2 separate regions of the Homo sapiens genome follow, and region 2 is linked to region 1. The links come from fine-mapping of genetic effects on gene expression. A gene starts in region 1. The other region holds a variant in brackets. All regions are shown on one strand. Distances are between the middles of the regions.

Region 1 (5,375 bases):
CTCAGCCTCCCAAAGTGCTGGGATTACAGGTGTGAGCCACTGCACCTGGCCTTTAAAAAAATTTTTTTAGACATGGGGTCTTACTATGTTGGCCAGGCTGATCTTGAACTCCTGGGCTCAAGTGATCCTCCCACCCTGGCCTCCCAAAGTGTTAGGATTACAGGCGTGAGCCACCACACTTGGCCGACTACTCCAAACAATATGTAGTCTGCCACACACCAACTTGTTTTTAGGATTAAAAATGTATTTTCAAATATTCAGTGGACCACTGGCTTATTTTGATAAAAACAGAGCTCTGCTTAATGGCTACACTGCTATACGAGTTGCATATGTTCCTCAATATTCCTTTTGGTGCTTCCTGAGCCATCTGATACAGCTTAGAACATTGGGAGGACAAGACGGTTGAGAAAAAGTAAATGACACCTTCCTAGAAAACTCATAATATAATGAGGCACATGTTCCATGTTAGAGTGCTGGAGAGGTGGGGAAGGTTTTGCTTTGTTTTTTGAGGTCATATGCTTGATTTCAGCAGAAAGGATGGAGAATAGGGAGAAAAAACAGAAGGGGCCCAAGGCTCCATGCCAGGCTTCAGGGATGAGCAGCCTGGGATCTAGCGAGGTTTAGTAATTTCCCAAAGTCATCCCATTTAAAGAGTCAGAGGAATAATTTAAATTTTCCATATTTGTCTGGCCCCAAAGCCCATACATGTTCTTTCTTGTGCCCATTGCTGGTTCTCCCTGCAAAAAGGGACAGAGAGAAAATAAAGGCAAGAAAGGGAGGTCTTCGATAAAGGGAAAGCTGAGAGGCAGAAACACCAAGTGCAGGAGGTAAGAGAGAAAGGAAATACTAAGAGAGAAAGCGAGAGGACCAAAAAAGAAAACGAAAAAGGAGGTAAAAGTCCCTCACTGGTGGTCTTCCAAGTTCCCTGAGGTTACCCTCGAAGCCACAGGCCCCACCTTCCGATGGAAGATTAATCTGGAGGCCGGGGACGCCGCCTACAGGACGGAAGAGGCCAGGAGAGAGAGGTTCAGGCCCCCGCCAGGCTCCCACCGCGGGAAGCAGGCTCCCGGGGGCGGCCCCGGGAGCTCTTAAAAATATCAGCGCTTGCCGGGCGCGGTGGCTCATGCCTGTGATCCCAGCACTTTGCGAGGCCGAGGCGGGTGGATCACCTTTAGTCATGAGTTCGAGACCAGTCTGGCCAACGTGGTGAAACCCCCGTCTCTACTAAAAATACAAAAATTAGCCAGTCGTGGTGGTGGGCCCCTTAATCTAAGCTACTTGGAGGCTGAGGCAGGAGAATCCCTTGAACCTGGGAGGCGGAGGTTGCAGTGAGCCGAGATCATGCCATTGCACTCCACCCTGGGTGACAAGAGCGAAACTCTGAATAATAATAATAAAAAAAAAAAATCAGCGCTCGGGCGGTAGGGGTGGGGGAGGTGGCAGTGGTTCACACCTGTAATCCCGCATTTTGGGAGGCTGAGATGAGCGGATCACCGGAGATCAGGAGTTCAAGGCCAGCCTGGCCAACATGGTGAAGCCCCGTCTCTACTAAAAACACAAAAAAAGCCGGGTGTGGCGGCGGGCGCCTGTAATTCCAGCTACTTTGGAGGCTGAGGCAGGAGAACTGCTTGAACCCGGGAGGTGGAGGCTGCAGTGAGCCGAGATCGCGCCACTGCACTCCAGCCTGGCGACAGAGCAAGACTCCGTCTCAAACAAACAAACAAAATCCCACAAAAATTAGCTGGCGTGCTGGCGCAGGCCTGTAATCCTAGCTACACGGGAGAATGAGGCAGGAGAATCGCTTGAACCCGGAAGGCGGAGACTGCAGTGAGCCGAGTTCGCGCCCTTGCACTCCAGCCTGGGCGACAGAGAGAGACTCCGTCTCAAAACAAAAACAAAAACAAAAACAAAAGCAAAAAACCAAACAAAAAAATCAGCGCTCGGGCCCCCTCCCATGGCCAGCTCTTGGGGCGGGGGACTGGTAAGGGAGGTTTACCCCAGCTGGTTCTAACGTGCAGCCGCGCTGAGAGCGCAGCGGGCGGTGTGGGGCGAGGGGCCCCAGGAGGAAAAAGAAGCCTGCCCCGGGAGGATGCCGGTCCCCGCACGGTCCCACTCAATGGACCCACTCCAGCCGCGCGCTCTGCCAGGGCCTGCGGCCAGGGTACCAGGCCCTCGGCACCTTCCACGTCCAGCGTGGGTCCTCACGGGCAGGTGCGTCTTGGCATCGGGAGGAGGGAGACTGGGGCACTGGAGTCTGCAGCGCCGCCTGGGGCCGGGGCTGGAGCCGAGCGCACGCCCAGAGCTCCGCGCTTCCGACTGCAGCCAGAGCCCGCCGACCCCCGCCCCACTTTAAAAACTTGGACTCGGGCGCCACGTGTTCACTTCCCCCACTGTGCTTTAGTTGAAAAGGGTTTTGTGACTTTTCCACTCGATTGCCGCCAAGCGGGCTATTACGCCGCTTCTGACCCCACCGTGGAGACGCGGGGACTAGAGTGACCATGCCTTCTTCGGAGCGAGCTGTCTCCATCATCCGCTAACGCGCCACCTTTAAAAAACAGGCACAACGCGCAAGCGACAAAGTCAGAGGCAGAGAGCGGCGGAGCACATGATAGAAAAGGTCGAGAGGCACATTCAGCGCCAGGTGGGTGGCTTTTCTCTCCCGCTAGGAGAGCCCAGGGCACCCCATGCTCTCCCTGTGCACCCGCGGCAGTTCGGCACCCCGATCTCACTCTTGCTCCCGCCCCCACAGCGCCTCCCTCGGCGGCGGGGGAAACGGATTAAGTCGTCCGTGTACCCTGGGGACGCACGAGGGAAAGCCCCGGTCCCCCCTCCCGCAACGTCACTCCTCCACCGCGCCACGGCCCGGCCCCGCCCTCGCCGTGAGCTCCGGGGGCACCTGCCGGAGGCTGGGTGCCGGGAGACCGGAAATGCGTGGCTCCGGGCCGGGGCCGCCCGCCCCCGCGTCGCGGGCTCTTTAAGGCCGGCGGTTTTCGCAGCCAGCCCGGGGCGGGGAAAGCGGAGCGCGCGCTCCACGCGGGACCGCCTCCCGGGCCGTAAGTACCGGCGTGGCGGCGCCTCAGCCCGGCCTGGGCGAGCCCTGGGTGCTCCGCCGGGCAGCTCACGGCGCCCCGTATGGCCTGGGGATCCTAAGAGGCCCTGTGACCCCCCTCGCCTGGTCTCCCTCTCACCCCTGGAGGGTTGCCGCAGCTCCGGGGCCCCCGGGCAGGAAGGGCGCACTGGTCGTCCCGGGAGAGGGGTGAGTGGGGGGCAGCTATAGGGGGAGTTCGGGGAGGCCTCCGAGTCCCCGCTGTCCCCGCGAGCCGCTTGGAGGCCCCCAGTGTCGCTCACTTCCAGGGTCGGGGAGACGGAACTGCGGCGACCATGTATTTCTGGTTTATCAAACCGCTAACACCCAGTCTAAGGGCAGGTTCTGTCCCATTGTTATCACTATCGAAGCAGCCGATGGAGGAGGGGAGGTGGGTAGCGAAACCGTAGCGAAAGAACCCGGGCCGCCCGGCTGGCTGCAGCTGCAGTCCGGGCGCCCGGGTCTGGGTTGGAAGCGCTGCTTTCCGCGCTGCTCTGGGGCCCTGGGCGATCACCGCCGCTTCCGCCGCTTGTGTAGTTCTGAATTCACGGAGTGGTAGCAGTGCAGTGTATAGGGTATTCTGCGGAAGTTGGAATGTTCTGGGCTTTTTTTTTCTTCTTCCCCAAACACATCCGTTGACACAAATTCCGAGCCAAATCTCACTCAGATTCGGAAGAGCCATGCAAAAGAAATTGGACAAAGGCTTCCTCCACCTGTTTCTTTTTTTCTTTTGAACTTGTAAACGACCTTAAAAGCATTTGGAGTTAGTTAAGAACAGATAATGTATCTTTTGGCCAGAGCGTCACCCAGGATTCTTTTGCACGGCAGGTCTGAGCAGAGGGCGGGGTGCAGGCGGAATGGCCCTCGTGCCCTATGAGGAGACCACGGAATTTGGGTTGCAGAAATTCCACAAGCCTCTTGCAACTTTTTCCTTTGCAAACCACACGATCCAGATCCGGCAGGACTGGAGACACCTGGGAGTCGCAGCGGTGGTTTGGGATGCGGTAAGTAAGCCCTGGGGGACCTCTGAAAACGTTCACACTTGCAAGACTGGCTTTTATTTTTTATTTTTTTTAGAACAGCTTTATTGAGATATAATTCACATAGCATACACTTTACCTATTTAAAGTGCACAATTCAGTGCGGTTTTAAAAATACAGTATATTCACAGAGTAGTGCAACTATTACCGCTTCAATTTTAAAAGTTTTACTATCACTGCCACTCTCAAACCCGTATCCCTTAGTCACTCCTCTTGTCCCTCCACATAGATTACATTTTAAAGGTGTAAATGAAAGCTGAGGAAAGTTAATGACTTGTCGGAGAGGATAGGAAGGAAAGCCCCCAACTGCTTTGGACACGAGTTAGTCTTTTTTTCTTTTGAGACATAGTCTCGTTCTGTTGCCCAGGCTGGAGTGCAGTGGTGCGATCCTGGCTCAATGCAGCCTCCGCTTCCTGGGTTCAAGTGATTCTCCCACCTCAGCCTCTGGAGTAACTGGGGCTACAGGTGCACGCCACCACACCTGGTTAATTTTTGTATTTTTTGGTAGAGATGGGGTTTCGACATGTTGGCCAGGCTGATCTGGAACTCCTGACCTCAAGTGATCCACCTGCCTCAGCCTCCCAAAGTGCTGGGATTACAGGCGTGAGCCACAGCGCCCAGCCGAGTTAGTCTCTTTATTTCACAGAGTATTGTAAAGTGGCAGAGCCCAAAATGGAGATTATGTGTTTTCTTTAAGTTTTCCATAGTTGTAATTGTTAAAAAATTGTAACTGCTTTTTAACTTCTTCCTCTCCCTGCCCTGTTCTGACTTGAGCCCTCAGCATCTAGCCCCACACCTAGGACTCAGTGGGAACTCAATTAATGTTGAATGCATGATTGGCATAAATACAGTTTGACAGTTTTAACATTGTTAGGGATGTTAAACACGTAGGAATAAAAATCTCAATATATTCTAATGTAGTAATACCACTTCTAGGAATCCAGTCCAGGTAACTACATGGAAGTTACTCTGGTAATAATAAAGATATAGGCCTGGTGTGGTGGCTCACACCTGTAATCCCAGCAGTTTGGGAGGCCGAGGTGGGCAGATCACTTGAAGTCAAGAGTTCGAAACCAGCCTAGCCAACATGGCGAAACTCCATCTCTACTGAAAATACAAAAATTAGCCGTGGTGGCGCACACCTGTAGTCCTAGCTACTCGGAAGGCTGAGGCAGGAGAATCGCTTGAACCTGGGAGGCAGAGGTTGCAGGGAGCTGGGATTGCACCACTGCACTACATCCTGGGTGACA
Region 2 (5,375 bases), 970 kb after region 1:
CCGGGCGTGGTGGCTGGAGCCTGTAGTCCCAGCTACTCGGGAGCCTGAGGCAGGAGAATGGCTTGAACCCAGGAGGCGGAGCTTGCAGTGAGCTGAGATCGCGCCCGTGCACTCCAACCTGGGCGACAGGGTGAGACTCCGTCTCAAAAAAAAAAAAAAAAAAAAAAAAAGAGACTGTGAGAACTTAACGGAAAAGAGAAAACTGTGTAGAAGTTCCACAAACCTCTTTAAATTCCAAACTTGGATTGAAAATCAGTAGTGAATAATTTGCATAAAAATTGCAGTAAAAAATAAATTTGGAAAAGTGTCAGCTGTTCCTTGCCTCTGCTGTGGCAAAAAAAAAAAAAAAAGTCCTCTTGTTTTACTGTATTATTCAACTATTTTTTTCCATTTGATAGTAAAATTTCTTGCATATGTCTACTAAGTTATTTTTCTAGCTTCTTTTTCCATCCTTTTTAACTATTCATTTGCCACTATAGGTTTCACTGATGAGAAGTCAAGACAGAGGAGTAGAGTGATGATATTAGGAGGGCATGGTTTGAGAACAAAGATGGTATCTTGGACTAGCATGAAAACACTTATCATAGCTTTTCCAAAAGGCTCAATGCAAAGCAAACAGGAAAATAAAACCCATATCCCAGCTTCTCACTTTGCAGGGGGAAACAATTGGACCATTCATCCAACTTTCTAACTCTTCTGGGGGCTGTCCAAGGGACTGGGCTTCTGTCTAACCTGTCTCAAATTACTGACAAAACCCATCATATTCTAGATGCCTGAGAGATGCTTAAAAACAAAAGGCAGCTGGGACTAGTATGAACGTTTGAACAGCCCCCGAGAATCTCTGACCAGGCTGATTGCTAAGGGTCTTCTGTATGAGGCCAGTCTTGAAGACTAAGAGAGATAGTTATTTTTTCTATTGCACAGATACTAAAATAAAGAGTAAAGAAGAAGAAGTAATAGAGAAACATAGTCCAACAAAGAAGTAAGAGCTCCAAAATGGACCCTTATGAAATAGTAATATTTGAATTACCTGACAGAGAATTGAAAATAACCATCATAAAAATGCTCAGTGAGCCAGGAGAACAATACATGAACGAAATGAGAATTTCAACAAAGAGATAGAGAAATTTTTAAAAGAACCAAACAATAGTCTTGGAGCTGAAGAATGTAATAATTGAACTAAAAATTTCAATAGAAGTGTTCAACAGCAGACTAGATCAAGCAGAAAAATCAGCAAACCCAAAGACAGATCATTTGAAATTATCTGACAAGAAGGGAAAAAAGAAGAAAGAGTGATGAACGTTTAAGGGACGCATGGGATGCTATTAAGCTGACCAATATTTGTAATATGGGAGTTGTAGAAGCAGAGGAGAAAGAAAGGGTCAGAAAGCTTATTCAAATAAACAAGGGCAAAAATTTCTCAAATTTGGGAAAGAAAATGGACGTCCAGATCCAAGAATCCTAACAGACCCTGAGTTAGATGAACTGAAAGACTTCAACACTGAGACACATTATAACCAAATTGTCAAAAGTCAAACACAAAAGAGAATTTTGAAAGCAGCAAGAGAAAAGTGACTTATCATGTAGAAAGAAACCCTTATAAGATTATAACAGTTTTTGCATCAGAAATCTCACAGAAATGGGATAATATATTCAAAGTGCTGAAAGAAGAAATAAACTATCAATCAAAAATACTATATCCAACAACTCATTAGTAAAGGTAAATATATACAGGCAAATACAAAATACTATAAAATGAAAATAGTGGTATTTAAATAATTTTAATTTTAATATGAAAGTTAAAAGACTCAAGTATTAAAAACAACATTAAAATATGTTAATGAATATACAATACAAAAATAAGTAAATTGTGATGTCAGTAACAAAATGTGGGCTGGATGTGGTGGCTCACATCTGTAATCCCAGCACTTTGAGAGGCTGAGTCAGGGAACTGATTGAAGCTAGTAGTTTCAACAAGCAGTTACTAGCTTGAAGCTGGTAGTATGCCTGAGCAACATAGTGAGACCACATCTTTACCAAAAAATTTTTGTAAAGATGTGTGGTGTGGTGACGCATGCCTATAGTCATATCTACTCAGGAAGCTGAGGAGGGAGGGTCACTTGAGCCTTGGTGTTTGAGGTTACAGTGAGCTAATCACACCACTGCACTCCATTCTGGGCAAGACAACAAGATCCCATCTCTAAAATGAAAACAACAATGAAACAATGAACAAAATAAAAATAAACAAACCAAAAAGAAAAGTGTATGGGGATGGCTGGGCGAGATGGCTCACGACTATAATCCCAGCACTTTGGGAAGCCGAGGTGGGCGGATCACCTGAGATTGGGAGTTCAAGACCAGCCTGACCAACATGTAGAAACCCCATCTCTACTAAAACTACAAAATTAGCCGGACGTGGTGGCATGCACCTTTAATCCCAGTTACTTAGGAGGCTGAGGCAGGAGAATCACTTGAACCCGGGAGGCAGAGGTTGCGGTGAACCAAGATCATGCCATTGCACTCCAGCCTGGGCAAAAAGAGTGAAACTCCGTCTCAAAAAAAAAAAAAAAGACTATTTAGAAAAGTGTATGGGAACTAAAAGTGAAAACTTTTTGAATGCAATTGAAGT[GAAGTT/T]ATTATCAGCCAAAATAGGCTGTTATTACTATAAGATTTTTATATAAGCCTCATAGTAAGTGCAAATATAATAGCTGTCAAAGATGCACAAAAGAAAAAAACGAAATAATATTTTTTTAAAAAGACAGCAAACTAGAAGAAGAGGGGCAATACAACTAAAAGACAGACAGAAAACAACTCTCAAAATGGCAAAATTGTCCTCCCCTATCAATAATTATTAAATATAAATGGATTAAAGCCTCCAATCAAAAGATATACATACAGTTGCTGAATGGATTGAAGAAAAAGACCCAACTATATGCTGTCTACAAAAGACTCACTTCAGATTTAAGGACACAAAGGCTGAAAATGAAGGTATGGAAAAAGATATTTTATGTTAATGGTATTCAAAAATAGCAGGGGTGGCTATAGTTATATGAGACAAAATAGACTTTAAGTCAAAAACTCACACAAGTGACAAAGAAGTCATTATAAAATGATAAAAGGGTCAATTTACCCAGAAGATACTATAATTATTATAATATATACACCAAACATCAGAGCACCTAAATATATAAAGCAATTATTGACAAAACTGAAGGGAGAAATAGACAGTGATAGAATAATAGTAGGGGACTTCAATAAACCACTTTCAATAATGATTAGAACCTCCAGACAGAAAATCAATAAGGAAATAGTAGACTTGAAAACAGTAAACCAAATAGGCCTGAGAGACATATAAAGACTATTTCACCCAATAGTGCAGAATATACATTCTTCTCCAGCAAACATGGAACATTTTCTGGGATAGATCATATGTTAATGCACAAAACAAGTCTTAACAAATTTAAGAACATTGAAATCATGCCAAATATCTTTTCCAACCACAGTGAAATAAAACTAGAAATTAATAGCAGAAGGAAAACTAAAAAATGTATAGAGATGTTAAACTACACAACACATTCTTGAACAACCAGTGGGTCAAGGAAGAAATCAATGACCAGGCGTGGTGGCTTATGCCTATAATCCTAGTGCTTTGGGAGGCTGAGGTGGGAGGACCAATTGAGGCCAAGAGTTTGAGACCAGCCTGAGCAACTTGTCAAGACCCTATCTCTACAAAAAAAAAAAAAAAAATTTTTTTTTAATTAGCTGGATGTGTTGGTACGTGCCTGCAGTCCCAGCTACTCAAGAGACTGAAGCAGGAGGATGGCCTGAGCCTGGAAGATCAAGGCTTCGGTGAGCTGTGATTGCACCACTGCACTCCAGCCTGGGTGACAGAGCAAGACCCTATCTCAAAGAAAAAGAAAATTTAGCTGGGCATGGTGACACATGCCTATAATCCTAGCTACTCAAGAGACTGAGACAAGAGAATCATTTGAGCCCAGGAGTTCAAAGTTACAGTGAACTATGATCACATCACTGTGCTCCAGCCTGGGCAACAGAGCAAGACTCTGTCTCAAAAAAAAAAAAAAAATCACACAATCATCACAATAGATATAGGAAAAAAGCATTTTACAGAATTCAATACACTCTCATGAGAAACTCTCAACAAACTAGGAATAGAAAGAAATTATCTCCACATAATAAAGTCCAAATAAGAAAAACCCACAGCTAACATCATATTCCTTTTTCTTAAAGGTGAAAAGCTGAAGTTTTTTTCTTTAAGATCAGGAACAAAGCAAGGATGCTTATTTTCACTACATCTATTCAACATAGTACTGGAAGTCCTAGCCAGAGTAATTAGACAAGAAAAGGAAAGAAGAGGCATCCCAATCAGAAAGGAACAAGTAAAAAGATCTCTATTTGCATATGCCATGATCTTATATGTACGAGAGCATGGTTAAGGGTGGGGAGCAGGAGGTTTATTCCTGTTCCTTTTTTCCCCATCTAGAACCATCACTCAAAAGTATCAAGTAATCAGAAAATAAAACTTCAAATTTAGCAAATTCTAAGGAAATGACCAAGCTCAGGAGAGCACCTTATTTGTATTTCATTTGTTTATAAGGTAATCTCAAATGTTGCCTGGGAGTCCTAGAAGTGTTTACTGGAATAGTAATGGATACAGAGTTGACCCTTGAGCAATGTAAAAGTTAGGGGCACTGACCCTCCATGCTGCCAAAAATCAGCATATAACTTTTGACTCCTCTAAAACTTAACTACCAATAGCCTACTGTTGAACAGAAGCCTTACCAGTAAAATAAACAGTTGATCGACAAATATTTTGTATGTTATTTGTATCATATATTGCATTCTTACAAAAAAGTAAGCTAGAAAAAAGAAAATGTTATTAAGGGAATCATAAGGAAAAGAAAATATATTTACTATTCATTAACTGGAAGTAGATCATCATAAAGATCTTCATCCTCATCATCTTCACGTTGAGTAGGCTGAAAATAAGGAGTCAGAGGAGGGGTTGCTCTTGCTTTCTCAGGTATGGCAGAGGTAGAAGAAAATCCATGAATTAGTTGGCTCACACAGTTCAAATTCATGTTGTCCGAGGATTCACTATATTCATTGCTTCATAGATAGATAGAGATACAGATATACACAGAAGTAATTAATGGGAAAAGATATATTTCCAGCATTTAAGCTCCATGAAGGCAGAAAAAAAGTGTAGTTGGCTCATCATTCAATCGCTAATTCATTCATTCAACAAATATTAATCAAGCATTTGTTGTGTGCCAAGCACTGTGCTTGCACTGGGCATTTATTTTGAAGTGGGGTATGTTTCTATTTTTAAAACATTCTGGCATTGTGTGGAG

What was found. PIP is the estimated chance that this variant, and not a neighbour inherited with it, causes the effect. A credible set is the group of variants that fine-mapping cannot tell apart.
Region 2: its variant is the best candidate, but not a certain one, in a credible set for the expression of METTL21A in transverse colon (GTEx, PIP 0.73).

Annotation. Positions count from the first base shown.
Region 1 is chr2:207,622,943-207,628,317 of GRCh38, reverse strand. METTL21A (methyltransferase 21A, HSPA lysine) reads left to right here and starts at 2,924. Exons shown (of 4, transcript NM_001127395.5): 1 at 2,924-3,256; 2 at 3,914-4,089. The coding sequence starts at 3,943. RefSeq lists enhancers at 1,051-1,753, 1,754-2,458 and a silencer at 2,729-3,328.
Region 2 is chr2:206,653,960-206,659,334 of GRCh38, reverse strand. The region is part of intron 11 of DYTN (dystrotelin); the gene reads left to right. Among named protein-coding and RNA genes, the nearest start is that of FAM237A, 14 kb to the right of the region's middle. The variant GAAGTT/T (reference allele first, on the strand shown) is at 2,630.